Linked DNA regions of Homo sapiens. The protein of the gene in region 2 purifies or fractionates together with the protein of the main gene of each other region. This does not show direct contact. Each region holds a gene or a part of one and is shown on either strand. Other genes may lie near its edges.

What was found.
Region 1: the proteins of AAR2 (region 2) and PTGES3 purify together in Homo sapiens (affinity purification with mass spectrometry; 3 studies listed by BioGRID and IntAct, with this or other methods). This does not show direct contact.
Region 3: the proteins of AAR2 (region 2) and ECD purify together in Homo sapiens (affinity purification with mass spectrometry; 5 studies listed by BioGRID and IntAct, with this or other methods). This does not show direct contact.
Region 4: the proteins of AAR2 (region 2) and NCDN purify together in Homo sapiens (affinity purification with mass spectrometry; 3 studies listed by BioGRID and IntAct, with this or other methods). This does not show direct contact.

Annotation. Positions count from the first base shown.
Region 1 is NC_000012.12:56,670,562-56,678,864, forward strand, and holds part of PTGES3 (prostaglandin E synthase 3), read right to left. Parts: intron 2,505-8,303; coding exon 2,391-2,504; intron 2,249-2,390; coding exon 2,179-2,248; intron 1,287-2,178; coding exon 1,188-1,286; intron 1-1,187. UniProt on the Homo sapiens protein: Cytosolic prostaglandin synthase that catalyzes the oxidoreduction of prostaglandin endoperoxide H2 (PGH2) to prostaglandin E2 (PGE2).
Region 2 is NC_000020.11:36,238,723-36,247,025, reverse strand, and holds part of AAR2 (protein AAR2 homolog), read right to left. Parts: intron 7,206-8,303; 5' UTR 7,158-7,205; coding exon 6,401-7,157; intron 2,330-6,400; coding exon 2,100-2,329; intron 1-2,099. UniProt on the Homo sapiens protein: Component of the U5 snRNP complex that is required for spliceosome assembly and for pre-mRNA splicing.
Region 3 is NC_000010.11:73,132,679-73,137,822, reverse strand, and holds the end of ECD (protein ecdysoneless homolog), read left to right. Parts: intron 1-904; coding exon 905-1,119; intron 1,120-3,009; coding exon 3,010-3,240; 3' UTR 3,241-4,155; downstream 4,156-5,144. UniProt on the Homo sapiens protein: Regulator of p53/TP53 stability and function. Inhibits MDM2-mediated degradation of p53/TP53 possibly by cooperating in part with TXNIP. May be involved transcriptional regulation. In vitro has intrinsic transactivation activity enhanced by EP300.
Region 4 is NC_000001.11:35,552,521-35,561,711, reverse strand, and holds the start of NCDN (neurochondrin), read right to left. Parts: upstream 3,914-9,191; 5' UTR 3,522-3,913; coding exon 3,489-3,521; intron 2,606-3,488; coding exon 2,465-2,605; intron 1,387-2,464; coding exon 418-1,386; intron 1-417. Other genes in the region: KIAA0319L (dyslexia-associated protein KIAA0319-like protein), read left to right, coding at 7,221-7,362. UniProt on the Homo sapiens protein: Probably involved in signal transduction in the nervous system, via increasing cell surface localization of GRM5/mGluR5 and positively regulating its signaling. Required for the spatial learning process.

The DNA.
Region 1 (8,303 bases), on a different chromosome or scaffold from region 2:
TCTTGTTTACCCTCTTCAGGCAACCTGGTGGTCCCCGCTTCCTGGGACAACACCGTACTGATGTTAACTTAGCGTGGTTACCTGACATATGGCAATGCAACCCAGACTTGGGCGCAAGTATTTCTCCCACTTCACCCTCCAGAGTAGCTTTTAACTACAACAGGCACATGCTACTGGTGCCTGGCAAAACAATATTTTTTGAACTGTGACTTTGTATTTTTAGGAGGGCATGTAATTAGCACACAAAGAATAGACTAAGCTAAATGAGGTGGCTCACACCTGTAACCCCAACACTTTGGGTGGCCAAGGTGGAAAGACTAGTTGTGTAATCCTTCAGGAGTTCGAGACAGCCTGAGCAATAGTGGATCCTGTATCTGGGGAAAAAACAAAAAAACAAATTTCCTGGGCGTGGTGGCACATTCCTACAATCCTAGCTATTTGGAGAGGTGAGGTGGGTGGGAGGATCGCTTAAGCCCAGGTGGAGGCTACAGTGAGCCATGTTCACACCAGTGCACTCTGGCATGAGTGGCATGAGACTACCTAAAAAAAAAGACTAGGCTGGTGTCGTGGCTCATGCCTGTAGTCCCAGCACTTTGGGAGGCTGAGGTGGGGAGACTGCTTGAGCCCAGAAGTTCAAGACCAAGCTGGGCAACACTGTGATACCCCTTTCTACAAAAAATACAAAAATTAGCCAGGTGTTGTGGCATGCCCCTACAGTCCCAGCTACTTGGGGGACTGAGGAGGGAGGATCACTTGGAGCCTGGGAAACTGAGGCTGCAGTGAGCCAAGATCGTGCCACTGCACTCCAGCCTGGGTGACAAAGAGAGACCCTGTTTTGGGGGAAAAAAAACACTGAAAATTGTTAAACATACCTTTTGAAAACAAATTTACTAGTAAGAACTATTTTCAGTTGATTATTTTTTCACCAAGCTTTGTCCCCTCCCATGTGATAGCTGAGTAATTTATGCAAAGTCTGTCTCTTAAGTACAAAAGATTCTACACCAGTTAATAACTGATATTCTGATCACACTTCGTATTAAAACTGAGTAGACAAAAAACATGAACATGAGGCTTTATACTTAGCTGTGAAACAAAAACACAGCCATATTCCTTACATCAAATAAGTACATCTTTTATTACCTAAAATAAAAATATCAAACTTTTCAAAAAAGGAAAATGAAACCTACCTTTGCCCTTTCTTTTGTTAACCTTGGCCATGACTGGCCAGATTCTCCTTTTCGTAAACAACATAAAATTGATCTGTCCGTTCTTTTATGCTTGGAATCCTAAAAACAAAAGGACCATCATACCATTTATCTTTCCAGCATCACTACATGATAGAAAATAGCTTGTCATTTCTCACCTTTCTCATTTCTTTACCTAAATTTTCTCTGGACTCTGAAACATGCCCTTGACTACTAAAAACTTCAAACTATCCAACTGCCCCAACCCCCTTTAAGTTTCATTTAAAAAAAAATTTTTTTTTCCCTTCTATTTCCTACTGAAATAATCTGCACAACAATAAAGTTTAAAGTTTAACCTGGTACCATTTTTTTCTTTCCTGCACACGATAAACAGAATAAAACCTTAAAAACTTTAACTAAAAATGATATAACCACAGAATGGTTTAAAGATTCTATTCTTAGATAAGGGAAGCCTTGGCCGGGCGCAGTGGCTCATGCCTGTAATCCCAGCACTTTGGGAGGCCGAGGCAGGTGGAACACCTGAGGTCAGGAGTTTGAGACCAGCCTGACCAACATGGTCTTTACTAAAAACACAAAAATTAGCCAGGCATGGTGGCATGTGCCTGTAATCCCAGCTGCTCCAGAGGCTGAGGCAGGAGAATCCCTGGAACCTACGAGGCAGAGGTTGCAGTGAGCCGGGATCGCTCCATTGTACTGCAGCAGTCTCAAAGAACAAAACCAAACAAACAAAAAAACAAAACAAATAAAAAAGATGAGACGAGCCTCAAGGATACTACTCTAAGCCCAAACAGTGATAGCAAAAACAAAAAGTATGCAGAAACCAATTTTGGAGGAAATATTCTACAAAATGTAAATATACATAGTTTGCCTCACTGTTAAGAAAAACAGAACTAATGCTCATTGCTAAAAAGAATACTTGGTATGTCTGTTTCCTCACAACTAAAATTTGGATTAAAGCATAAAGACTACTTACATTTGGATCAATACAGTGAAAAAGATCAATTTCATTTAAATGCTTAAAATTATCACTTCCTCCGAGACAACTGTATAAAATAATAAAGAAAGAATTAAGCCTCTTCAAAGAGACAAAGATTAATAATAACTTCAATGAAAAGACAAGCCAGTCAAAGTTATTCAGTTGTGTGAATGACTATTTTACATCATTGGATAAAAAGCTTAACTTACCTGAATGTAAGTTTGGATTTTTCAAAATTTACATTAACATCCTTACTGTCTTCAACACAAAATTCAATGAAGACATAGTCCCTTCGATCGTACCACTTTGCAGAAGCAGGCTGCCTACAAAAGGATAAAGTAGGGAAAGTCAAGCTGGAATTCATTAACTAAACATTCACATACTAACCTTCGACACCATTATAGCATTATTTCAGGGCAGTTTGTTACAATTTTAAACAAAAACTACATTTTTACCCTAACAGCTACATTCCAAGTTAAAACCTATGGGTCTAACAAGATTTAGTTTCAGAATGATTCCAATTTCATAATAGGAAAGATTTAAAAACCAAACAATGCTTAGTAGAGTTAGCCGTTTATCTAGTCCTATCAAAAATTATGTTACTTGGCTGGGTGCAGTGGCTCACACCTGTAATCCCAGCACTTTGGGAGGCCAAGGCAGGTGGGTCACTTGAGGCCAGGAGAGCTAGAGACCAGCCTGGCCAGCACAGCGAAACCCCGACTCTACTACAAATACAAATACGGAAAAAAAAAAAAAAAAAAAAAAAAAAAGCAGGGTACGGTGGCTCACGCCTGTAATCCCAGCACTTTGGGAGGCTGAGGTGGGTGGATCACCTAAGCTCAGGAGTTCGAGACCAGCCTGACCAACATGGTGAAACCCCATCTCTACTAAAATACAAAAATTAGCCAGGCACAGTGGCAGGCGCCTGTAATCTCAGCTACTTGGGAGGCTGAGGCAGGAGCATCGCTTGAACCTGGGAGGCGGAGGTTGCAATGAGCCGAGATTGCGCCATTGCACTCCAGCCTGGCAACAGAGCGAGACTGTCTCAAAAAAAAAAAAAAAAAAAAAAAATTAGCTGGGCATGGTGATGCAGGCCTGTAGTCCCAGATACTTGAGGGATGGGACTGAGGCACAAGAATCACTTGAACCCGGGAGGTGGAGGCTGCGGTGAGCTGAGATCATGCCACTGCAATCCAGCCTGGGCAACAGAGACTCTGTCTCAAAACAAACAACAACAACAAAAAACACTGGTACATCAGAGCTTCACTTTTTACATTAAGTTCACTGAAACCAGGAGAATCAATCTCCTTTCCTCAAATTCAGCAATCTAGAATTTTATCAGTTTCCTCAAAATTAATACATTGAAGTCCTAACCCCCAGTACATCTTAAGAATGGGATTGTATTTGGAGAAAGTGTCTTTAAATGACAAGTAAATATGAGGTCTTAGGATAGACCCTAATCCAATGACTGTTGTCCTCCTATATAAAGAGATTAGCACAGAGGGAAGAAAGAAGATAGCTATCTGCAAACCAAGGAAAGGCCTCAGAAGAAACTAATCCTGCTGACACCTTCGCCTTGGATTTTCAGCCTCGTGGAAATGTGAAGAAATAAATTTCTGCTGTTTAAGCCACCCAGTGTGTGATACTTTCTTATGAAAGCCTTAGCAGGCCAGGCGCGGTGGCTCACGCCTGTAATCCCAGCACTTTGGGAGGCGAGGCAGGTGGATCACCTGAGGTCGAGAATTCGAGACCAGCCTGACCAACACGGAGAAACTCGTCTCTGCTAAAATTACAAAAAATTCAGGCGGGCACAGTGGCTCACGCCCATAATCCCAGCACTTTGGGAGGCCGAGGCAGGAGGATCACAATGTCAGGAGATTGAGACCATCCTGGCTAACACGATGAAACCCTGTCTCTACTAAAAATACAAAAAATTAGCCAGGCATGGTGGTAGGCGCCTGTAGTCCCAGCTACTCGGGAGGCTGAGACAGGAGAATGGCATGAACCCAGGAGGCGGAGCTTGCAGTGAGCTGAGATCAGGCCACCGCACCCCAGCCTGGGCAACAGAGCAAGACTCCATCTCAAAAAAAAAAAAAAAAAAAAAAAAAAAAATTCGCCAGGCGTGGTGGTGCATGCCTGTAATCTCAGCTACTCAGGAGGCTGAGTCAGGAGAATCGCTTGAACCTGGGAAGTGGAGGTTACGGTGAGCCGAGATCAGGCCATTGCACTCCAGCCTGGGCAACAAGAGTGAAACTCGGTCTCAAAAAAAAAAAAAAAAAAAAAAAGTGCTGGTTCACACCTGTAATCCCAGCACTTTGGGAGGCAGAGGCAGGCGGATCACGAGGTCAGGAGTTCGAGACCAGCCTGGCCAATATAGTAAAACCCCGTCTCTACTAAAATTGCAAAAATTAGCTGGGCGTGGTGGCACGTACCTGTAGTCCCAGCTATTTGGGAGACTGAGCCAGGCCAATCAGTTGAACCCAGGAGGTAGAGGTTGCAGCGAGCCAAGATCACGCCACTGCACTCTAGTCTGGGTGACAGAGCAAGACTCTGTCTCAAAAAAGAAAAAGAAAAAGAAAAAGAAAAAAAGCCTTAGCAAGCTATATGATCATGTCCCAGATAAAACAAATTTAAATTATCAAAACCTGTGGTTAGGCCATGAACCAAAAATGATTCCTACATTTTTTAAATGTATATTTTTAAAAAAACACAGGAGGCGGAAGTTGCAGTGAGCCAAGATCACACTACTGCACTCTAGCCTAGGCAACAGAATGAGACCAAAAAAAAAAAAAAAAAAAATGTGAATGAGATAAGAGATATTTGTGGCCTGCAAAGCTGAATATTTACTGGCTGACCCTTTATACAAGTTGGCTAACACATTAAAACTACAAACAGGGCCGAGTGCGGTGGCTCACGCCTGTAATCTCCAGCACTTTGGGAGGCTGAGATGGGTGCATCACCTAAGGTCAGGAGTTCAGAGACCAGCCTGGCAAACATTATGAAACCCCATCTCTACTAAAAATACAAAAAATTAGCTGGGTGTGGTGATGGGCACCTGTAATCCCAGCTACTCAGGATGCTGCAGCAGGAGAATCGCTTGAAATAAGGAGGTGGAGGTTGCAGTGAGCCCAGACCACGCCATTGCACTCCAGCCTGGACAACAGCGTGAAACTCCGTCTCAAAACACAACACAAAAACTGCAGACCAGGCGCAGTGACTCAAGCCCATGATCCCAGCACTTTGTGAGGCCAAGGCTGATGGATCACCTGGGGCTGGGAGTTTGAGACCAGTCTGACCAACGTGGAGAAACCCCGTCTCTACTAAAAATACAAAATTAGCCAGGCGAGGTGGCGTATGCCTGTAATACCAGCTATTTGGGAGGCTGGGAGGGGGAGGGGGAGGGGGAGGTGGAGGTGGAGGTTGCGGTAAGCCGAGATCACGCCACTGCACTACAGCCTGGGCAACAGAGAGAGGCTGTGTCTCCCCCCCCAAAAAAAAAAAAAAAGCCAAAATAGGATTGGAACCCAGCATTTCTGACAGAAGGCTTATTTTTTTTCACTTCACAAAAAGGGACAATAATTTCTCCAGCGGTCCTTTTATTGCAAAGTAACTAACCATGTCTCTGTACTTCCAGTTTGTTTTATTATATAATCTAAACTAGCTTCTGCATACTTGACAACATGATAATGGAGTCCTGAGAGTCTAAAATTTGTTATGGAGGCAGTGAGAGAGTGATATTTGACCTTGAGTCTTTCTTGAACAAAGAAAAATTCTTTTATCTCCTGGGGATGTTAAAAGAAGAATGCTTCAGGGTCTAAAACCAAAGCAAGAAAGTAATTTTTTTAAAAAAAGAGTGCTCAAAAGACGGAATGTGGAAAGCCACAAGAGTTGCTTGATAGAAAAGTGCTAAGTGGGTATGCGTGGTGGTTCATGCCTATAATCCCAGCACTTTGGGAGGCCAAGGCAGGTAAATCACTTGAAGTCAGCCTGGACAACATGGTGAAACCCCATCGCTACTAAAAATACAAAAATTAGACAGGCATGGTGGCGCGCTCCTATAGTCCCAGCTACTTGGGAGGCTGAAGCACAAGAATCCTTGAACCCGGTGGTGGAGGTTGCAGTGAGCTGAGATCGTGCCACTGCACTGCAGCCTGGGTGAGAGAGTGAGATTCCGACTCAAAAAAAAAAAAAAAAAAAAAAAAAATAGTGCTGGCTAAGTGCGGTGGCTTATGGCAGTAATCTCAGCACTTTGGGAGGCTGAGGTGAGCAGGTCACCTGATGTCAGGAGTTCAAGACCAGCCTGGCCAACCACCGTGGTGAAATCCCGTCTCTACTAAAAATGTAAAAATTAGCTGGGCATGGTGGTGCACACCTGTGATCCCAGCTACTAGGATGGCTGAGGCGGGAGAATTGCTTGAACATGAAAGGCAGAGGTTGCAGTAAGCCAGATAGCGCCACTGCACTCTAGCCTGGGCGACAGAGTGAGACTCCTTCTCCGCACCACCCAAAAAAAAAAAAAAAAGTGCTACATTTTCCATAAAACATTACCTTGAACAGCTTTCACCTTTGTATCTTAGAGTGGAAACTACCACATAAAATAACTCGCTAGGACAGAGGTTCACAAGCCTTCCTGGTATATAGTGCCCTTGGTGTCTGAGGAGTTTTGTTGTGCTCTTAAGCCAAAAGGAGTAACTAGCAGTTGCTTTGATGACATAGCTGTATCCAAGCAACATAACTATATTGTCTTAGCAGCCTAGTAGCTATTGGAAAAACGAATTTACATTATTGGAAAGAAAAATATATATAGTTTCTTATATAACCATACCTATCAATGGAATGTGTATGGCTTTTGGATACTATATAACTTCTCAAACTTTGAAATGACTTCTATCATCTCACTCCTTGTTCCCCATTATTATTATTATTTTTTTTTGGTGGGGTGGGTACCTGTGTTTTTTTGAGTTATAGCAACCACCAGAAATTCAGTTTTTAGAAGATGAAACTTAATGGAGGGGTTTGCAGTACAATCTCATATTGAAACTGAACAACCTGAAACTAATAGTTTGCTTAGTGTCTTGGCTTATGTTGAGTATCACTGAATTACTCTGAAATTTAAAATATCCCAAGGTAGTTGTGAGTTCCTCCATGGGGCCCTGATACATCTTGGCACATGATTTGGTAGCCACAGGCCACAGGACTAGCAGGTTTATTCAGAAAGTTTTATAGTACTACAGCTGATTACAGAAGATCTCAAATATCTTACGGTTTCCCTGAGCAATGAGTATGTGGGAGACAGCTTGGTGTCAGACATTTATAGGCAAGGTGTTTGATACCTAAGAAGGAAAAACCATTTATGAACTCCAGGAACTACTTTTTTCCTTTCCATAGCAGAACTTTGATGTCTCATTCCTCACATATTACAAATAGGTATTTTTAATTTATTTATTATTTTTGAGATGGAGTCTGGCTCTGTCGCCCAGGTTGGAGTGCAGTGGCGTGATCTCGGCTCACAGCAGCTTCTGCCTCCTGGGTTCAAGCAGTTCTCCTTCCTCAGTCCCTTGAGTAGCTGGGATTACAGGCGCCCGCCACCAAGCCTGGCTAATTTTTGTTTTTTAGTAGAGGCAGGTTTTCACCATGTTGGCCAGGCTGGTCTCGAACTCCTGACCTCAGGTGAGCCACCCGCCTCAGCCTCCCAAAGTGCTGGAATTACAGGAGTGAGCCACCATACCCAGCCTGTTTTGTCTTTTATAATAAAATGTGCATTGCACATAGTAAAACTATCAAATGGATTAAAATAACTGGGACACTTTTCCTAGCAAACTGTTTCCATCTAGCTTCTTTGGTGCATCAATTTTTTATAGTGAAGGGTGCTTGCAGTGTTTTATAAATTAGAGTTATAACTCACCAGATACTAACATATTAAAATTATGGTATTTAGGAACAAATACGGTCTCTGTCCTTTCAAGGCTAACAAAGAGACCTTTTAGATAGGACTATAGAGGATTTTAGGTTATGCAAAATGTAATTGCTTGGATTGGTATATATAGCCCTTCTATTGAGCTTAGAAATGCTTGTCACATCAGCATGGAATAGGCTGGGCACTGTGCCTCATGCCTGGAATC
Region 2 (8,303 bases):
TACAGCAGATGCTCAGCAATTACCTGCTAAATCAATGAACAAATCCCTTGAGGGCAGGAACCCTGGCTAACTCACATGTATATATATTCCTCAACACTTTCAGTAGAATGTTATATATGAAGAATGCTCAAAGACATGTGTTTTTTGTTTTGTTTTGTTTTGTTTTGGCACATGCCCTGGATTTTTCCAAATAATGACATCGAATTTTCTTGGTGAAAAGTTCAAAGACTGAATGTTTCCAACCATCAGCTTTGCACAACCCACCTGGGCATCTAGCAATCCAGCTGGGCACTTTCTGCTTTGTAAATCATTGCTGGCAACAAAGCCTGGCAATTATAGAGCTCAGCTGCTGGTTGTGCTAACAATGGTCTGGACAGCCAGCAACACCGTGGCCCTCCTGTGTCTGTGCGACGCATCAACGTGCATCAGGAGGGAAGCAGCCACTGCCAGAGGCAAGTTAGCAGGCTAATGCCTCCTCACACTGCCTCACAACCCATAACCAGTACCTTTGGGGAAAATTTTCCCCACAGAGGAAGGACAAAGGGGTTTAATTTCTCTGTTATATGAAGAACCAGTAAAAGGACAGTTTTATAGCTCTTCTGAGTGGAACAGACCAGGCTCAAATCATGCGCTTGACTGACTCATTGCCATGGTTTACACAGGTCCTTCAACTGCCAGCTTTAAGTCAGATGCCTGCTCACAGGGACTCATCCAACAGTAGGTTGGCTTTAGAAAAGCGTTCTGTACCTCTGAGAAACAGGACCTCGATGAAGTCTTCACTGATGTCAATCAAGAATCCTTTCTGGGGGATTCACACTGTGTTCACTACACAAGGGCATAAGCACAGGCAGGAAACCAAGACTCAGGCCTGGGTACAAATCCTGACCTCCACCTGCCAGCTGTATGACTTCAAGTAAGTGATTTAACCATTCTCAAGTGTTCCCATTTGTAAAATGGGAATAATACCCCCATCTTACAAGGCTCCAAAGGGATTCAATGAGTGAACAGGGTCTCACTCTGTTGCCCAGGCTGGAGTGCAGTGGCACGATCATAATCATTGCTCACTATAGCCTCAAACTCCTGGGCTAAGTGATCCTCCTGTCTCAGCCTCCCAAGTGGCTAGGACTACAGGTGCACATGACCATACCTGGCCAATTTTTTAATTTTTGGAGAGACGGGGTCTCACTATATTGCCCAAGCTGGTCTTTAATTCCTGGGCTCAAGTGATCCTCCTGCCTTCACCTCCCAAAGTGTTGGGATTACAGTCATGAACCACCACGCCCAGCCCCAATATTTAACGAATGCTCGTCCCTTCTGTTACCCCGAGTGGGATTGGAAGGTTGGTGAAAGGCTGCCTTATATGGAGCAGGCCTCATGGGGGTATTACACACAGGGAGAAGAAAGAAGCTCATGGGAGGGAAAGTATGGAAACTGACAGTGGCAGCTTCTGCCTCTTCTATTCTTGAGAAAGTTACACAATGTGAGTGACAGAGGCTGTCCCAAGTACATAAAGGACTAATCTGTTTGCAAAGGGAGGAAATAGCATAGGATGAAGATTGTAAGTTGTTTGAAGCTTCTTTCCTAATTACCACTCATAATGAAAATTTAATTGCCAAGTTAAAAGCAAATTTCACTTTTTCTGTCATAGAATCTCTGCAGAAACTGGCACATTTTGTTTGAACAGGAAATCAAAGTTATTTTAATGCTTAAATGAGATCTAAGGAGCTGCAGATGTTTCACTGGGAATAACAAACTTCAAAATTCTGCTTTACTGGGTTGTAGCAATTCATGGCTACAGGGAGAAAGAAACGCTGTTTTAAGCTGAGTAAACCAAAGCAGTGGGAGGAATTCAAATCCAAGTACCCCAGTGTTAGGCACTCTGGGGACGAGGTGTAGGGAGAGGGTGGTACAGAGAGAAAATTTCTGGCATAGAGGCACTTACAATTGAGTAAGAGAGAGAAAAGCAGGAAATATCCCAAGACTAGGAAACTGAAATTTAAAAATTTTGGGGTCATGGAAGAATAGCGAGAAACAAAACACATACTGTTGCCTCAATTCTGACCCACATGTGCATCAGCTCAGTCAGAAAGACTGCTCACCTGTAAGGTGCTGGTGAGGAAGTTGTCTTGGGAGACAATGTCTACGAAGAAGTCAGCGGGGATCTCACCAAGCTGGTGGTACAGGATGGAGATGAGGTTGATGTAGAGGGTGTGGTGCTTCATCATGGCTGCTTCTGACCGGCACAGGAGGTTCAGGAGCCGCTTCCAATGCTCAAATGCCTCGTACACATTCCCCAGCAGGAAGCACACAAAAGCAAACTGGAGTTCACCTGAAAGGTGCAGAGAGGAGAAGTGATTCTGAGGGAGAGGAGGACCAGCTGACACTCTCCATCACTATTCACAAGGCCATGAATTCCACTGGACCTCAGCAACAGATGAGCTTTTATCCTTGTCACTCCTGCAGAGCCTGGCAGGAGATTTTGCACCTAACAGGTACTCAATAGATGTCTGCTGAACCGCTATGAATTCAAGCCATGGGAAACCAACCTGTGGCTTTGGATTTCTATAAAATCAGACTGCTAGAGAAGAGGTATTCCCAGTATTTGCCTGGCATTTTAAGTTTACAAAATGTGTTCATGGATATTATGCCAAGTGGATTTCAAACCTGGCTGCCCATCAGAATCACTGAGAGTCTGTTAAAAGTAAAGCTACCCAAGCTTCACCCTCAGAGGTTCTGGTGGAGGAGAGATGATGGGGCCTTCGTATCTGTAGCTCTAACAAGCTCCCCAGGTGATTCTAATGTGGATGGTCTGCTCCAGGGTCAGGAAATACTGCACTATACCATGTAACCCTCAGCCCAACTCCACAAGGCGATCAGGAAGATGGTATTTGCCTCATTTCATAGATAAGGTCAAGGGCTTGCCCAAGGCCACACATCTAATGCTTCACAATGTGGGCAACGGAAAGATAAAACAGATTCTCCATTGGGTGGGAACAGTTCTGGAACCTCCCACAAAAGAAAAATTCATGAGTACTTATTCCAGGGTCAGCCTGCCAGGCAGATTATTTTTGTTTGCTTAACCACAGGGCTCTGTGATTTAATCTCTATGAGCAGCTTGGTGGCTAAGAGCATGGGCTCTGGAGCCAAACTGCCTAGCTTCAAATCTTAGCTCTGCCACTTAGCAGCTGTGTGACCTTGGGCAAGTTACTCAATCTATTAAGGCCTCAATTTCCTTATTTGAGGGTTGTAGCAAAGATTACATGAATGGATATAGTACATGTATAGCATTTAGAATAAGACCTGGCACAAAGTAGCACTCAAAAAATATTATGTTCCCAATTTCTATCAGATGCCCATCTCAAACAGAGACCTGATGATCCAGACACCACTGTCCCTGGGCAAGTAACTGGGTCTCTGGTTACCACAGAATACTGCTCCTCATCACAGGCATTCTCTCTACTTCAAAGGTGGCTGGAAATTTAATGAGGTATACATACATGTGGGCCATAAAAAGAAGAGATGTACTCAACACCAAATACCTCTTTAAATGCATGGCGTTTGATCTGTGCCACCTCCAGAGACCTGGAAAAACTAGCTCCCTGTTCCTAAGCATACGGAACTAAGTTTGATTTGTGTGAATAGCTACCTGGTTTAGAAATTTTGGATTTCTGACCAATATTTTCAAATATAGTCAAATTTTCTTTGTATAATATAGGTTAATGATTTGCTTCTTCAGCTGGCTTTACTTGGTTTGTGAAACTAAATATTAGCCTATTATTTGCGTTTAGGACATTTATTAAATTTGTGCATTTCTGACTTTATCTAAAATTAAATTATATTTTTCAAAGAGGTGTGATGTAGATTCAAAATTATCCCTGGACAGGTGCGGTGGCAGGGATAGTCCTAGCCCTTTGAGAGGTCAGTGGAGGAGGATTGCTTGAGTTCAGGAGTTTGAGACAAGCTTGGGCAACACAGGGAGACCCTATCTCAACCAAAAATAATTAGCTGGGCGTGGTGGCACACACCTGAAGTCCCACCTACTTGGGAGGCTGAGGTGGGAGGCTCAGTTGAGCCCAGGAGGTTGAGGCTGCAGTGAGTTGTGATCATGCCACTGTACTCCAGCCCATGTCACAGAGTGAGACCTTGTCTCAAAAAAAAAAAAAAAAAAAAACCAACAAAGTTATTCCTGTAACAGACCTTTTCGCAAGATATATTTTGAAGAATTGAAATGTTTAAGAGGTAGAAAGACAGGATTTCTATTCATTTTTAAGCCAGACTTTTAAAAGTTACTTATTATACGAAAATACTAATGCATTAAGATGTACCTGTTAAAGGCTGGGTGCGGTGGCTCACGCCTGTAATTCCAGCACTTTGGGAGGCTGAGGCAGGTGGATCATGAGGTCAGGAGATCGAGACCATCCTGGCCAACATGGTGAAACCCTGTCTCTACTAAAAATACAAAACAAAATTAGCCGGGCGTGGTGGCGGGCGCCTGTAGTCCCAGCTACTCAGGAGGCTGAGGCAGGAGAATGGCGTGAACCCGGGAGGCGGAGCTTGCAGTGAGCCGAACTCACACCACTGCACTCCAGCCTGGGCGACAGAGCAAGACTCCGTCTCAACAACAACAACAACAACAACAACAACAACAACAACAACAACAAAAGATGTACCTGTTAAAATATAGGTTATATCATTAGCTGAGCCAATGATATAAAAAGTCCTGTCTAGGCACAGTAATCCCAGCACTTTGGGAAGCCGAGGCAGAAGGATCACTTGGGCCCGAGAGGTTGAGGTGGCAGTAAGACATGATTGTGTGACTGACTGTACTCCACCCTGGGCGACACAGCGAAACCCTGTCTCAAAAAAAAAAAAAAAAAAAAAAGAAGTCCTACATTCAAATTTCTCACTGAACTTCCAACAAGAAAATATGCAAATTACCTGGAAAATTTATAAATATATATAAAAATAGCTGTTCAAAATGTGACACATATTTGCTGTCACTAGTATTTAAGAAATAAAGAAATATAAACAAGGTGCCATTTTTCAGCTATCCAATTGGAAGAGGCCTTTGTTAAACTGTCATGCCCAATGCTGTCAAAGGTGATGGGCAACAGGTTCCTACCAGCCAGCAAGGATGCAAAAACCTTCTCCTGGCAACATGCACAGTCTGACCCAGCAATTCTATCCCTAAATGTATGTGTAAGTACACACGAGAATGTTCACTAGATGATATATGTATATATATTTTTGAGACGGCTCTTGTTGCCCAGGCTGGAGTGCAATGGCGAGGTCTTGGTTCACTGCGACCTCTGCCTCCTGGGTTCAAGTGATTCTCCTGCCTCAGCCTCCAGAGTAGCTGGGACTACAGGTGCACACCACCCAGCTAATTTTGTATTTTTAGTACAGATGGGGTTTCACCATGTTGGCCAGGCTGGTCTCGAACTCCTAACCTCAGGTGATCCCCACCGGCCTCAGCCTCCCAAAGTGCTGGGATTACAGGTGTGAGTCACCACACCCGGCCACTTGATGATACAATAGAGAAAACAGGGAGCATCTCAATGGTCCATAACAGAGAACTGGTCCAATAACTATGGAACATGAAACAGCCACTAAAAAAGTGACTGTTAGTGACATGAAAAAACATTTATATTAAGGCAGATTACAAAGTAATAATATACTTCAATCCTGTTTTTATAAAAACTCATATATATACAGACACATATACTGAATTTTTAAGACTGAGAGGAAGTACATAGAAATAAACAGAGAAGACATTGAAATGAAATACATAGAAATACACAGAAAAAAAGGAACGTAAATATACCAAACTGTTTAAATGGTTATTTCTAAGTAGTGAGATTTGAAGTAAATTTTGTTTTTCTTTTATGATTATTATCTATCATTTTTGTAATAAAAGGGAAGGTAACAATAAAAACTGTAATGATTAAAAAAAAAATCACTGTCCTGTTCTAAGCCAGTTGAGAGACCAACATCTTGAGGGTCAGGAGCAAACTGAGCAGGCAGGTGAGAGGCTACAACGAACACAGGTCTGGCCCAGAAACCAAGAGTCCTGGGTTCTCGTCTCAGTTCAGCCACTCAGTGGGCCAAATCTTTTCCTTCTGTAGGACTGGGCTCTATCAGTGGTTCCCAAACAGAAGATTATCTGCACCAGGTTCACCTAGGATGTTTGTTTATTAGACAGATAGAAACTGCGGAAGCCCCACTCCAGATCTCTCAAATCGAAATCTCCAGGGCTAAGGGTAAAGACACACCTGTATCTTCAGCCTCCTAGCCAGGTTTAGTTGCTGCTGGACTAACACAAGATGTACTCCCTATTCCAAAACACCTCTGCTAATATCCTCCCCTTGGCCCACTCCCAAAGAGCCTTGTTCCTTCTCACCAAGCACATCCTGGGGGCTGCTGGGGAACTGCTTGTTGAGCACAGTCTCCAGGGCATAGCTCAGGTCCATGCTGTGCTTGGTTATCTCAGCTGGCGTGGCACCCTCTGGGAACATCTGCGTGGGCAGCTCTGAGAAGCGGATCTCTGTCCCGGCTCTGGGCTTCATCTCTGGTAGCCGGGCCAGGCCCTCTTGGTAGCTTTTGCACTCAATGCCACAGCGGGGTAGATTCTGCCCCACGCGGTCCTTGGTGTGCTTCATGGAGAGCACAGGTAGCACATCGGAAAAGGCACAGATCTGTCGATTCTCGGGCTGTAGCTTCTCCACTGTGGCTTCGCTGATGAAGTTGGTGAGTGAGATCCACTTCTTCAGGGTGGCATATGGGTAAGGCCCCAGGAACTGGTCCAGCTCCTGGAGGTTGGCCCTCATGGCCTCCACCTCAGACTCTGGGGCTGGGGACAGGTCTACCTCTTCCCTGAGTGTGCTCCAGCGCAGCACTGTCAGCCCCCGCTGGTGCAGGCTAAGGAAGAAACCCATACGAGGGCCTACTTCCTTCGGATTAGCCTTGTCCACAGAGCTGTAGTGGAGGAAGTGGATGCCTGGAGGGATCATCTTCACGCCCCGGAACTTGGGCCCGACCTCCCAGGAGTTATAGTCAATCCCAAACTCTGTTCCCTTGGGCATGTTCAGGATGACCACAGTGGCCCCTTCAAAGAAGAGGCGCTTGGCTAGCTCAGGATCCATCTGCACGGCAGCCATGGGGCCAGTGGTGGGTGACCAAAAGAACCCTTTTTCTTTGATGAACAGCTGAGAAAGAAAGAAACCAGAGTTAATCAGAACGTGGGGGAAAGATGCTTCATTTGCTAAGCATTCTGTATGTGCCAGATATTGAGTTAGACCCCTGACATAATTATTTCCCTTAATCCTCATGACAACCCTGCATTGAGTTTACAGATGAGAAAAACGAGGATTAAAGGAAAGGATTTTTGTGTTTTGGCTTAACATGCAAGGACACTCACTTCACAGCTATAAGATACCAGTGAAAGAAAAGTGACATGCTCATGGTCATACCAGGACCCAAATTAGAATCTGGATACCCTGCCTGCAGGCCAGTGTTCTGTCCACCGTCCATTCTTAATATCTTCTCAGATCTCTTTCTCACAACAGAGGGTGAGGGTGGAAAATGCCTGGACAGGTCACTCTAAACTATATGCCTACATCATTTAAAACTACAATTCTGCCAAAAAACTATCCCAAAAGATTTGGAAAGATTAAATCAAGTACATATCCAGTTTCCCATAAGCCTCAGGGAAGGCCCAGAAATGGACAGACGGTAGCAAGTGGAGGCTCAGCATCTAAAGTTTGTTCAGGGTCTAGAGAGCTTTCCTACCACAAATCTCCCCTCTTCTTTCACTCATAAAAAACCTAAACTCCAGGGAGTGAAACAACTTCCCAAAGAGCCCACAATCAGTGGTGGCTCTGGACCATTCATCCAGAATGAATTCAGGTGGTAAAGCTAGCCTAGGAAGAGAAAGCTGGCCAGAAGAGAAAGAGCTTAGTACACTTATTTTACCTACTTCTGAATATCCCAGACATTGCCTCTGGGATATCGGCAAGAATGGTACCAACATGAACAAATGTAAACAAACCATTATGCAACCTTCTAGTCCTAAGATACCTACCTGACTAATTTAACAAATACTCACTGAGTGCCTGCATTGTGCCAGGATCTTTGCCAGGCCCCCAAAAAACATCACAGATTAAGACAGTCACTGCCCTCTAGGCAATTCCAATCTAGCCAAGACGTCAAAATTTCACACACAGAAAAACGAGCTGCCTGTTTAATTGTTTACTTTTTTTTTTTTTTTTTTTGAGACAGGGTCTCGCTCTGTCACCCCAGCTGGA
Region 3 (5,144 bases), on a different chromosome or scaffold from region 2:
GTTTGACATATATAGTAGCTGCTCATTAATTTTTTTTTTTTTTTTTTGAGACAGTGTCTCGCTCTGTTGCCCAGGCTGGAGTGCAGTGGCACGATCTCGGCTCACTGCAAGCTCCGCCTCCTGGGTTCATGCCATTCTTCTGCCTCAGCCTCCTGAGTAACTGGGACTACAGGCGCCTGCCACCACACCCAGCTAATTTTTTTGTATTTTTAGTAGAGACGGGGTTTCACCGTGTTAGCCAGGATGGTCTCGATCTCCTGACCTCATGATCCGCCCATCTCAGCCTACCAAAGTGCTGGGATTACAGGCGTGAGCCACCGTGCCCGGCCTCATTAAATATTTGAGAGTGACTGAATGCTGTGTGTTTAAATAGGGTTTTACCTTGGCTCCCATATTATATTGTTCTTTTTTGGAATTACTGTACTTACAAATCAGTAATAAAAAGATAACTCAAAAAATAATTATAATATGTATATATGTACAGAACTGCAGAGAGAAAGATTGGGATACCCGGAAACTGCTAAAAGATGCTTACCTCTGGGGAGAGAGTGAGATTGGAGACAATACTTGTATGGCTTGAATGTTTACATCAAAATGTATTCATTTATTAGGTATTTTTAAAAATTTTTTAAGAAAAATATTTTAATTAATTGAATTCACTTTTTTTTAAGCTAAATCTTTTGATTCAGCTTGTACGCTTTTCCACAACATTAAATGCACACATATCTGCCAGCATTACCATTTGTAGAAGGGATTTTTGTGAAGTAGACTGACTGTGTGTATTAGTCTTTTTCTGTGGGTAACATTCTAATTATTTTGAGATGTGTAGTAACTAAATAATAATAATAATAATAATAATAATAATAATTACTAAGTGGCTCTTTCTTTCTTGGGATCTGTGTAGGGCCAAGGCCTAATGAGTCAGATTCTGATGATCTGGATGATGAAGACTTTGAATGTTTAGATAGTGATGATGACTTGGACTTTGAAACACACGAACCTGGCGAAGAGGCTTCCCTGAAAGGAACACTTGATAATCTCAAGTCATACATGGCCCAGATGGACCAGGAACTAGCACACACCTGCATCAGCAAAAGTTTCACCACTAGGAACCAAGTGGTATGTGTGTTTTTAACCTCTTTCTCTTTCTGAGTCTAGTATGTCAGATAGCTAAAACCATATTTTATCATAGTTTTTCTTTTTTTGGTGTGTGAGATTTGAAATAAATAAGAATGTTAATTGTTTTCCTAACTCTGGTAGGATAAAGGATCATAGACTTAATTTTCCAAAACATAAGCTTCATTATATTACTTATTCTACGTTATCTATCAGGATTTAAAATAAAAAGTCATATAATATGCTCAAATTAGAATGCGATTGTACACTACTACTTCTTAAATACATTTTTTTTCAAAAGTAGTTTAAAAAAACTACAGCTTAAATGGATTTTAAAAAAGAGAGGGCACATGTTCTCAAGACCTTTTGAGACTATGCCTTGGGCCACAGTGGATTAAAACAAAATAACATAAGTAAATAAACAGGATCTTAAACATTCAAATAACTTTCCAGTTTTAACAGTTTATTTTGTATTTTTCCCTAATTTAGAGCCAAATTTAGGATTCACCTTCCGTTTATGTTTTCATCCTAGTTTTTAATGCCACCACTGTCTAATCCTAAACAGAGGTATTATGGAAAGAGCAAGAACCCTGGAGTCTTATGGGTTAGGGTTTGAAGTCTAGCTCAGCTGTCCACTGTGAATGTATCTATAAACCAGTAATCCTCATATCATAAAATTAACATGAGAACCAAATTAGACAGCAGTAAAACCTACAATAGGCCTTTAATTAATGTTAATTCTCCTTGCTTTGATCATCTAAACCACTTTTAAAACTATAGTCACTTCCAGAATTGTCAAAATCTAGTAGAAACCATACATTAGATTTATCTAAAGCAGTATTTCTTAAATTTTAATGCGAATATAAACCAAAAGATCATGTTACAACATAGATTCTGATTAAGTAGGCCTGGGATGAAGCTTGAGATTTTCCTTTTTTTTATTATTATTTTGTTTTATTTTATTATTATTATTATTATTTTATTTGAGATGGAAGTCTCCCTCTGTCACCCAGGCTGGAGTACAGTGGCACGATCTTGGCTCACTGCACCCTCTGCCTCCTGGGTTTAAGCAATTCTCCTGCCTCAGCCTCCCAAGTAGCTGGGACTACAGGTGCGCACCACCGTGCCTGGCTAATTTTTGTATATTTAGTAGAGACAGGGTTTCACCATGTTGGCCAGGCTAGTCTCTGGAGCTCCTGACCTCAAGTGATCCACCCACCTCAGCCTCCCAAAGTGCTGGGATTACAGGCATGAGCGACCACTCCCAGCTGAGTTTTTCCATTTCTAATAAGCCCCAAGCGATGGAGACTCTGCTGCTCCATGGACAATGCTTTGGGTAGCAAGGACATAAAAGTCTATCGAGCTGTAATCTTTCAAATCCTTTCCCCAGCTTGTGGAATCAGAGGCCCAACTAACAATTTAGAATCTTTGTGGTTGGAACCACAAAGCCTTGTGTTTTTACTTTTAAGCTTTTTCACTGGGGGGAAAGAAAGGAACACTCGCTTCTTTCATTTTGAAGAAAATTTACATTATTATTTCATTTAATATTCACTTTTATGTTTGTTTCTTTTAAGACTCTTAGACAAGTTATAAATGTACCTTCTTAATTCTATTAGCCCTTGAGCTATTTCAAAATAGACATGCAATTTATTCGATTTGCAGGAATCTTTCCTGGAGAGAAATGTGTTATAACCTTTAGAACCAAGTTTTATTATGTGTGCTAGGCCATATAACTTGTAGACTTCATTTTCAGTTTATATCACCAAGGATAAGAAGTTTCCTTTTTAATTTGGAATGCAAATTTACATTGTGGCTTAGTTATCTTTTTATTGTAACCACCATGCAACCTAATGATACATTAGCCCATAATTTTCTTTTCCCTCTATGAATAAGGAACCTGTATCCCAGACTACCGATAACAATTCAGATGAGGAAGATTCTGGTACGGGAGAATCTGTTATGGCACCAGTAGATGTAGACCTGAACCTGGTTTCAAATATATTGGAATCCTATAGCTCCCAAGCTGGACTGGCAGGACCTGCTTCCAATCTTTTACAAAGCATGGGAGTGCAGCTGCCTGACAACACCGATCACAGACCAACAAGTAAGCCAACAAAAAATTAACCAGCACATTTAGCTTCTCTTTTTTCTTTTTAAATAAATATTGAATATGATTCTGTTCATTTCTAGTTTAGATTACTCATTTAGTAAAAATGTTTCTTCATTACAAGTTTTACAGATTGACTTCTCCATGAGCCCCAAATGTGGCCCTCTTGGCACAAGTCTTTGTGATCTCAGCTGTGGGTTATACACAGGTTTTGAACTCGGCAGGGTAGAATCTAGCCCCTAGACAACCTTGAGATGAAATTCACACACTTCATGCTAAAGACATACCCTACCACAATATACCCTTGGAGTAATTCTAAATATTTAAATTTCTCCCTTACTGCTATTCATCCTCAGATCAAAATTTCAAGTTGACAAATTTGGATTTGAAAACTCATTCACTTTTTCAATTTTTTTAATGAGGCATAACATGCATATGGTTAAGTGCACAAATCTTAAGTGTACAGTCAGTGAATTTTTGCATGTATGTATGTACCTGAAGCAAGATATAGAACTTATTTACTTGTAAATAACAGCTATATTGATATGTCACATACCAAAAAATTTACCCTTTAAATTATACAATTCAGTGGTTTTTAGTATATTTACAAAATTGTGCAACCATCCCTACCATCTAATTCTAGAATATTAGAAACCCCATACTCACTAATAGTCTCTCATTCCCTTCTACTCCCAGCCCCTAGAAACCACTAGTCTACTTTCTGTCTCTATGGATTTGCCTATTTTGGATATTTCATACCTGATACTGTACTTAATTGTTTTAATTAATTAATTGGTTTGATATTTAATATAACTGATATATCTTTTGCTAAGATGAAATGTTTATTTCTTAAAATGATGCTCATATTCCTCCTAAAATAAATCAAGTATTATCTATATATCATAAAATTCACCATTAAAAGCAAAAAAAAAGTCTTCTTTACAGACAGCTCCATATACTGACCATGTTTTTATAATCTAGGTCTCTGGATTCTTCTTTATTATTGTATGCAGCAGAGAGATGCCTTTACTATATCTTACCCTATCCAAGTAAAAACAATGGAAATAGTTTCATACTGTTCCCTCTCCAGTGACCAAGGGAGGAATTAGGAGAATGGTGTAGTAGAGTTCTCATCTGAGAACTTACTATCACGAACTAATAAAAACTGAATATGGCCGGGCATGGTGGTGGGCGCCTATAATCCCAGCTACTTGGGAGGCTGAGGCAGGAGAATAGCTTGAACCCGGGAGCCGGAGGTTGCAGTGAGCCAAGATTGCGCCATTGCGCTCCAGCCTGAGCGACAAGAGCGAAACTCCGTCTCAAAAATAAATAAATAAAAACTAAATATACCATATCCCACTCCAATCCTTTGTCTTCCTAGTGTTCACTGAAATGAACTAAGGAAGAGGATAAGTGTTACACATTGACTAAAGTAACACATCAGATGATATTGTGCAACATTTTAACATTTTAAATAATAATTATTTTAAATATATTTTTATTGTTTGTTTTGAAGCTACATTTCTCATGTTAAAAATGGGGCCAGAATGCCGTCCCAGCTCAACTGTGAGAAAAAGGTTTCCCCCCATCGCACTTGTGGTACATTAGGTTTATCTTCATTGAGGATTAAATATTGGGTAGAGAAAGGGTGATAGGCAAAAATATAAATGAAATTTTTTTTTATTCTGGTTGCCACGGCTGACTGACTTTCAGCCAGGCTCACAAGATTTTACCTGTTTTTCTATTCTGCATCATGGACCCAGATGGGTTCTATTTATCCTTAGCACCTTCATAATTTATTGCCCATGTATATATTCTCAGGTCAGGTAGGTCCTGTACCAAAGTTTCTTTTATTTATCTGCCATTTTCAGTATTCCAGGCCTGCTCTCTTCTGCCTCAGCTTTCAGATATCCTTGGGGTT
Region 4 (9,191 bases), on a different chromosome or scaffold from region 2:
GCTTCTCTTCCCTGCACCATTAGAAGTTCGGGTGTGTGCGTGTATAAAACAATGCTATGGAGTGAGCAGAACAGACTGCTTCAATCTTGTGTGCATGTGTTGGGGAGAGGTGTGTGGCGTGTAGTGTGTGTGTATTGGGGGGAGCGTTTGAGTGGGAGGTTACTGTGTTGTGTGTGTGTGCGTGTGTGTGTACTGTGATGTGAGTGCACATATGGTGTGTGGTATGGTGCTTGTGTGGAGGGAGGGAGAGAGAGGGAGGTTGGGCCGCACACTACTCCCTGGAGTGCTGGCTACAGTATCAGCTTGTGTGGACATGCAGCTTCGCTGTCTCCCCATTATTCTCCTCCCCCTTGCCTCCCAGCTCCAGCACTGGCTCCCCCCATACTGGGCCCCCTCTGTGGGTCACTGCACCCTCACCTGCAGCAGGTAGTGGATAACAGCCCCTATGGCCTCCTTCATGACGCTCACGAGCTGCACCTTCTGTGGCTCCTTAAGCAGTGACTGCTCACAGCGAGTGCATTCCTGGATCCCCAACTCCATGAGGGCATAGCAGGCGGTCACCACATCCTCTTTCACCTCCGTGCCCGTCTCCTCCAGTGCCAGCCGCACTTCCACGCACGCCAGATTCACCAGCAGGGCCAGGAACTTGCTCCCGGAGCTGCCCGCCGGGATCCAGTCGGAGCCGCAGGCGTGTGCCAGGCGGGCTGCCAGCTTCAGTGCAGGGTTGCGCTGCCAGGAGCTCAGCTTGCTTCCCAGGATGCGTGCCAGCCCGGCCTGCAGATCCCGGTAGCATTCAGGGGGCACGGTTGTCGGGGGCAAAAAGAGGGGCAGCAGCTGGCAGAGCTCAAACTTGCTGGCATCCTCAGCTTTCTGGAAATCCTCACTGAGGCCCCGCAACACGGCCAGCAGGTCGGGCTCCGCCTCCTTCCAGCACTGTGTCTCGGCAGCAGCCAGCAGCCCCACCAGGAGTGCCAGGGCCTGGTCAAAGCCATAGCCGTGCCCCAGGTATGCCTGGCATAGGGCAGACACGGTGCCACCAGCAATGAGGTGCCGAGGCCCTCTGGGTGTGCCTGCTACAGCCGTCAGGCACTGGTAGGTGTCATCAATCATGGAGCGGCGGGCAGCATCGTCCGGGTCCCCCCGGGCTGTGAGGAAGGTGCTAAGAATGGGAATCTTGTTCAGGACTTGGGGATGGGCGGCCAGTTCAGGGTCACTGCAGAAGCAGGCCAGCAGGGCCACACCCAAAGCCCGCAGAACATGGTCAGGGCAGCCATCCGGCGCCTCCTTGGTGGTCAGGAGACGATTGGGGAAGGTGAAGCCGACAGCATCGAAGATCCGCCGCCGAGTTTTGGCATCTATGTCACCTGCTTTGACTGCCTTGGTCACCTATAGGGGGTATGTGCTATCATCAGGATGAAAGGAAGAAGTGGGAAAGACTGTCCCTCTCCTGCATCCTGGGGCACTGAGGACTAGCAAGATGAGGTTATGCAACAGGACTCATCTGAGGTCATTTCATCCAGCTCCTTTTTTCTCCTTAGAGGCAGATAAATGTGACCTCTGGGATCCCTCTCATCTGTGACTGTCCCATGGAAGTGAGGTCTAGTCTTCCTCAACCATTCATTTGAGCATTTCAACACCTGGCCAGTTGAGAAGTTCTTCCTGATGTCTAAATGCCCACAACCTGGGATGGAAGGGGCTTAGAACTCAATGTTTTAAGATCTCCCAAGGATTTAAAGTCCTTCCTTAATTGCTCCCTCCAGAGAAGTCCCTGATCCATTTCTGCCACCTTCTCAGGGGAAATGGCTCCTGTGTCTCGCCGCTCCGCCTGTCAAAACATTTCCCCTTACATTTCACCTAAACACCTCCTCTGCTGCAGTGTGAGCCCTTGACTCCAGAGCCTTCTCCTTGTTGCCATGGCAAACAAGCAGCGGCTGTACTCCCTCCTCCCTTCACCCCCCACACACAACCCCCCCTTCCTAGCACTGCAGCTTCTGCTCTGCTGTCCCCAGCTTGGGTTCCTCCAAAAAGGCTAAGCCCCAAACTAGCTCCCATTCCTTAACCTACCTACTGCCATCCTGGCCTTCCCCTAGGACCCCTCCCCAGCCACTTCCAGCCCTGCTACTCTCTCCAGGCCCAGAACAACCATCCCCAGCCCTCAAGTACTCTGCACTAGTTACTACCTGCTGCTGTTACCCTATGAGTCAGCTTCCATCTGCTCTGGGACGCCCCAGAAAACAGACCCAGGCAGCCCCTAGTGCCACAGCCTTATTCAGTCCCATTCTCCTCTTTGCCCCCATTCTCAGGGGGAGCAAAAAAGAGCACAAAGGTAGGGGTCTTGGGCCTTCGTTGGTGCCTCCAGGGTTGCTAGCACTACGTACATATCCTTGGGGACTCACTGACCCCATTCCTTGGGGGCCCAACCACCCAGCCCTTCCCACCTCCCAATTTTCAGCCAGTTCCTTACTAGCAGCAGGGCTGCAAACTGCTCGCTGTCATTCTTGGCCTCACGGAGGGCTCCCAGGTAGCGCTCCAGGGTGGGGTTTCGGCCCTCTGCCTGGTTCAGAGCTGGCTCGCAATCCGAGGCCATGATGCTCGCCTTGCCCAACTGTGAACACAAGAGGGACTGAGCATCCCTCTGCAGAGGAGGGACGGGGGTGGGGTGGGGGTGAGAGTGGAGGATGGAGGGAGGGAGGGATTAGCACAGAGGGAGGGGAGGAGAGAATCTGGAGGGGTGGACTCCTCAGGACTGACCTCCCCCCAGAAGCCCCTTTAAGGGGCTGGATCTGCAAATCCTTAGGGATAAAGAAGGGACCCTGGTCCAAGGTCACCTCCAGAAAGCGGGAAAGAAGGACCATGCATGCTGCTGCTCAGCCGGACAGCTCTCCTCACCAGTCTCCTGGGGGTGGGCGGGAGCTGGCCCCACTGCTCAGCTGTCCCCCTGGCACCGGAGGCTGGGTTTTATCTCCCTCCACAGGGACACAGAGGGAGTGAGTGGTGAGGACAGACAGGGAGAAATGGAGACATACATGGGTGAAGTTCGATTATCCGGACTCAGGCTGACATGGGAGAAAAGGACACCCCAGGCTTCCTTTCCCCTCCCTTCTTCAGAGGCAGAGATACGCTTCAGAAGTGAGAATACAAGACGCTCAACAGGGAAGGCTTGGAGGCCCCTTTGGGGACCCCACCCCTCCAGCCAGGGCTCTCAGTCGCCCCCGCAGGCTCCTTGCCTCCTCTCCTTTCCCTCCCTCGGGTAGAGGCTGCAGCAGCAGCAGCAGCGGCGGCGGCAGCAGCAGAATTAACCCCTTGCGCTCCCTCTTCTCGCCCTCCCCGTCCCGCTACCAGCCTGTGGATGCCGGCAGGGGCTGGAGAAGCAAGAGGGGGTCCCGGATAGTTCCCAGGACAACGGAGAATCCAAAAGCCGGATAATCGAAGCAGGGCTGCTGAGATGGGGAGATGAGAAGGGGAGGAGGGTTCCTGGCGGTCACCACCTGTCCCGCCGCAGCCAGGTCACAACACGACATTGATGAAGTCACGACAGGGCGGCGATGAGATCACACTTCACGATGGCGCGGTGATGTCACGGAGAGATCACGTCAAAATCACGACATGGGAGACAGCCCCCAAAGATGACAGGGCAAATTAAAAAAAAAAAAGATATATATTGAAAAGGGCTGTGACAAAATGGAGTCTCGACAGGGCACGATGGTGTCGCGATATGGCGCGATGGAGTCGCGATAGGGTCCCCGGGGTGTGTCGGCATCGATCAGCGCCGGCTCGGAGAGGCCCCGGCTGGGATGCAGGGGAGGGCCCGAAGGGGGCTGAGCTCACCAGGCTGCGGCCCCGAGCGGCGAAGTCTTCTCCCAGCGCGATGCTCCGGGAGCCTCGGGCCGCTGCTCACGCCGCGTTGCCCACTCCTGGCTCCAGGCTGCTGCAGCTCCACCCCCACCCCCGCACCGCTCTTGACGAATCCGCGGCTGCTTCACTCCGGGCTCTGGCCAATGGCAAGTCAGGGTGCTAAGCAGTAGGGGGTGCCGCCGTTGCCGCCATCTTGCTTGTGGGTATTGCCCGAGTCTGGGGGCTGGGGCTCGAGCGAAGGAGGCAAGGTGCAGACTGCCTCTGGAGAGCGGGCGGCGAGAGGCTGGGGGCCCAGATTCCTTCGCTTGTGCGTAGTTTTACCCGCCCAGCACTGCCCCTCCTCCCCCTTGGTCTCGCGGCCGGCATTGCCCTTCCCGGGGGAGGGGCGGGAGGGCTTGGTTAGCATGGAGAGTGTGTTTCCGGGTCGGTCCCGGGGAGGTGGGAGGAGGCGGTGTTTCCGGCCGCCGTCGCTGTCCAGGGAGGCTGAGGCGAGAGGTAGCTGTCCGGGTGGGGAGCCCGCACTACCTTCTTCCTCTTCCTCCTCCTCCTCCGGGTGAGGGGAGCGAAGGTTGGGGGTCCCCGAGCCCATGGACCAGGAGGAGGCGGAGGCCGCCGAGAGCCGGGGCCCCGCTATGTGGCCCTGAGCCCCGGTAGGTGGCCGGGGGCGGCTGGCTGCCAGGCCGAGGACCATGGGCTCAGGGGAGGGGCAAGCGGGACGGGCGATGTCAGCGGCTGCGCTGGCCGGATGTTGGGTCCGGAGGTGGCGCCCCTGGCTCGGCCAGGGCAGCCAGCTGCTTCTGTCCTTGCAGGTGCGCAGCTTGGGTCCCAGGCTGAACCCCGCTTCTCTCGGGCCTGGGCCTAGTCATGCAGCTCCCTCCATCCCCTGAGAGCCAGGCAGACAGCCGGGGTTCGGGGCGCTGCCGTCCTTCTTCCACCTTCGACCTCTGCAGCCTAGTCTTTAGTTGCTGTCTCTGATGTTTGGTCTCTCCACCGAGATAGAAAGTTGGTGCAGAATGAAGAGGGGATGGGGTTGAGCACGATGTGTCCATTATAATGTGAAACCTGCCTCATCCACGATTTTGAAAATTATGCCCCACAGAGGGTCCTGTAGTGGCTGCAGTGAGCACAAAGGTGAAATGAAGGAAGTCAAAATTGATAACCTCTGGCGGGATTCCAGGAACTCTTTGGCTTCTGGTCTCATAGTGGTTGTGTCCAACTGACAGTAGTTGCAGTTAGTGAAGAGCATTAGCTGACTCTCCTTGTGCTCTCTCCTGTGATTAACAGACTGAAAACTAGGAACAAATTGGAAAGACGACCTCCCAGAACAATCTGTTCATTTTTCCAGCTATTTGGAAAACAGTGTCTGCAAATATAAGCAAAGCTATTCATGGCAGTCTGTTCTGTAACTTTCCCAAATATCTGAGACTTTTTAAAAAAGAGCTTTATTCTCGATTACTCATACCAACTGAATAGATTGTTTCAGACGTGCTCCATCGTTGTTCAAACATATCTTATCGCTGTGTACATAAATGGAGTTCCACGTATGTAGTTGACAGACTGAACTGTGATACATCCCCCATCAACCTGAAGTATTAAGTAAACATTACCCCCTGCTCTGTCTGAACAGCTGCTGCAACAGAGAGTGCTTTTATTTTGGGTGTACTTGTAACGCCCTAAATGCCAGAACTATTGTGAGCTTCTCTAGATTTTCATTTGTCAAGTATTGTGGGGGTGTGTGTTCTCTCCCTGGGTTGTTACCCTTTGATTCAGTAACAAACTATTCGGATCTTGGTGATGTGTTGTTGTTCTTGCGTTTGGTCAGCAAGCCTTTAACTGGACCCTAGCAGTGATTTGTGCCCTTAGGCAATTATAGGTTTCAGAGGAATGACTGGTTAGGAGTTCAAATGAAATTAACTCTGCCTTTCTCTTAGACGCAAGATTTATTAGACATGGCACTTCTAATCAGCTTGTTAGTCCAGTGGTGTTTATTACTCCATTTTTCAAAAGCTATTCATTTCTTTTCTGCTTCTCCCACCCACCTGTCAGGCTATTGATGACAGCTGTTGAGTCACCTTGAGTTTTAAATCCTTTTGTGGTAGGCAGAAATGTGTTGGGTAAGATTCATACACACCCATACATGCACACATGCATACTCACTCGTTCCCTCTTGGGAGGCTAGAGAAATTGCTGGATGTACTTTCTAACTTAGGCTCCATTTCATAATCTCTTGAACATGTCTCTGGCCCACACACCTCCTTTCTGCCCCCTGCTCCCTGAAATACAACTACAAAACAACTAGAAATAGGAATGGATGGAAGTGAATGAGAACGATGAAGTCCTTCAGATGCATGTGGTTCTGCAAAAGCCTTTTCTTGGGTGGGCTGCACCTTAGTTTTGCAGCTGTGTGTATGTCTGTGGCTGTTTCTTGGTATTAGTCAGTATTGGTATCCAGCCCAGGCAATGCTGATCTCCCTGTATGCTGGCCGTGGATAGGAGTTAGGGGTTGGCAGCCTGTGTCGTTTGCTGGATGTAGATGACAGGTACATAGTTGGACAGAAGTTTTTGAATTGCTTCTTCAGAACTCAGTCAACCCTCATAATGTTGCCAATATTTACGTACTAATTTAGACAATATAGCAAAGTTTTATATGAGGGGAGAAATTTATGGTAAATGAGTTTTTCTGCTGGAAGAGACCTAAATAATCCAGCCCCTAGATTCTGGAGTAGCCAGCATAGTGCCTGACGTAAGTATCTGTTGAATGCAGGGATTGGGGTGGGTAGCATTGAGGTGTAAATTGAATAGATTTTCATGATAATAGTGGTGGGCGGAGACAGTAGCAGACTGGAGAGTGCATGCCCTGCCTAAAGACATTTGCATTCAGAAATTTAAAAAATACTGGGCCAGACATAACCCTCAGGTTACTTTACCTCTGAGGGTGCAACCTCTTCTCCTCAAAAGTAAGAAAGTGTGTTTGGTCAAAGTCACAAAGCTGTTAGTAGCAGAACTGCAACTAAAACTCAGAGATCTTCTTGTCTGCGGGCTGGTACTCTTTCCATTCTACCACATAGGTGATTTACTGTTAGATTAAAAAAAAAAAAAGGAATATAAAGTTTCAGTTTTCAGTGGATTCATTTGATATCCCTTGCTGTGTTGTTATTCTGATAATTATAGGCTACCTCAAAGCCCAGGTTTAAAATTTATAGGCAGGGTTGAGCCGTTAAAGACAAACTTGAAATTTTTCTTTCCCCTAATCTGTCATATTTTCTAGCATTCCACATTTCCAGGAATTAATTATTAATTACTCGGCATGTAATTTCTTCTCTTTCTGTCCTTCTAGTGTACTGGTTCTGCCTGTCTGGAGGGCCATGGAGAAGAGGCTGGGAGTCAAGCCAAATCCTGCTTCCTGGATTTTATCAGGATATTATTGGCAGACATCTGCGAAGTGGTTGAGAAGCCTGTACCTGTTTTATACTTGCTTTTGCTTCAGCGTTCTGTGGTTGTCAACAGGTACTATTTTCTTTATAGATTTAAGATTTTTTTTTTTAGAAAAGGGCATTTTATGTGAGTCCCTCAGTTCATTTTAAGGACTATTAGGAGGCAGAAAAAACAATCTGCTAATTGACAGAAATGGTCATCCTTTTGGTGACTGAGGTCTGTTGGGTTTATTTATTTGTTTTGTTTTGGAACCAGAGTTTAAATTGGATTCTTTTTCATAAGGGAGAATTGGCACAACCGTTTTAAGACTTGATAAAAGTCAACTGGGTATTTCCACTTAATGACTATAAAACCTTGAGCAAATTACCTATTATCTTTGAGGAAGGGTTATTATCTACCTCATGGTTTGATTTGAGGGATAGTATAATTAAAGCATGTAGCACAGCACTCAGCATGGGTGCTTAGTCTTGCTATTTGCCCAGGCTGGTCTTGAGCTTCCTTTCCTTTCCTAAAGGAATCTACACTTATGGGAAAAATGCGTTCCTTACTTTTTCCATAGAGAGGGGCTATGTTGATAGATTTTTTAGACTATGCTTTCCTCCTAGAGATTATTTCACCAGGGTAAAGCCTCTTGCCAGGAATCAGTGCCAAGAAGGCTAAATTTCAAAGGAGAATGCCCTTTCTTTCTTTCTTTCTTTCTTTCTTTCTTTCAAGTTCTTTTGTTGATATTGTGCTTTCATAGTATGAGTGTGAGAAAACAGCAATATGAGAAAGATTTCTGTGTATGCTGCCATTCTGGCCAGTGACCAAAAACCTTCTGCTGTAGAGACCACCATCTGGGATAACTAATCAGCCTTTTTCCCTTATAATTACAAAGATTTCTGTTGCTTTCCTAAAGGAATTGGTGGTCATGATTTTGAGACCCTAGTAATTATTGTATTTAGCAATTTCAGTAACATCAGCTTTGGGGTTTTTGTTGTCTTGCAGTGATGGTTGATGATTGCATAATTATAGCAGTGGAAGTTGTACTTGACAGAAAGCTGATCTACATGGTTTTTTTTTTTTTTTACCCCAGATGATGCTTTGCTGGGACAGCTGACTATTTCAGGTCAACATTTTATATAAGATCATTAGAATTAAATAAGTAATTGATTTAGCACCATCAGAATAGGGAAAAATCACTTCTTTAAAAAAAAGAGATGGGGTCTTGTCACCCAGGCTGGAGTGCGATGGTGCCATCATAGCTGCCTGCAGCCTCAAACTCCTGGGCTCAAGCTGTCCTCTTGCTTCAGCCTCCAGGCATGAGCTAGTATGCCTGGCTAATTTTTTTTTTTTTTAAGACAGTGTCACTCCATCATCTAGGCTGGAGTGCAGTGGCACAATCTCGGCTCACTGCAAACTCTGCCTCCCAGGTTCAAGCGATTGTCCTGCCGCAGCCTCCTGAGTAGCTGGAATTACAGGCGCACACCACCACACCCGGCTAATTTTTATATTTTATCCTTTTTATATTTTAGTAGAGGTAGAGTTTTGCCATGTTGGCCACACTGGTCTCAAACTCCTGACCTCAAGTGATCTGCATGCCTCGGCCTCCCAAAGTGCTGAGATTACAGATGTGAGCAACTACACCCGTCTGCCTGGCTAATTTGTACATTTTTTTAGGAGATGGGGTCTTGCTGTTTTGCCCAGGTTGGTCTCGAACTCCTGGCTTCAGTCGATCCTCCAACTTTGGCCTACTGAATAGCTGGGATTGCAGACACCAACCACCATGCCTGGTGTAAATCACATTTTTTGAAGCACACCTACCACATACCAGACTCCTAATTGTAAACATTACATACCTTATCTCATTTAATCTTCATGATAACCCAAAAATAGATAGTTTTCTTCTCATTTTATAGATA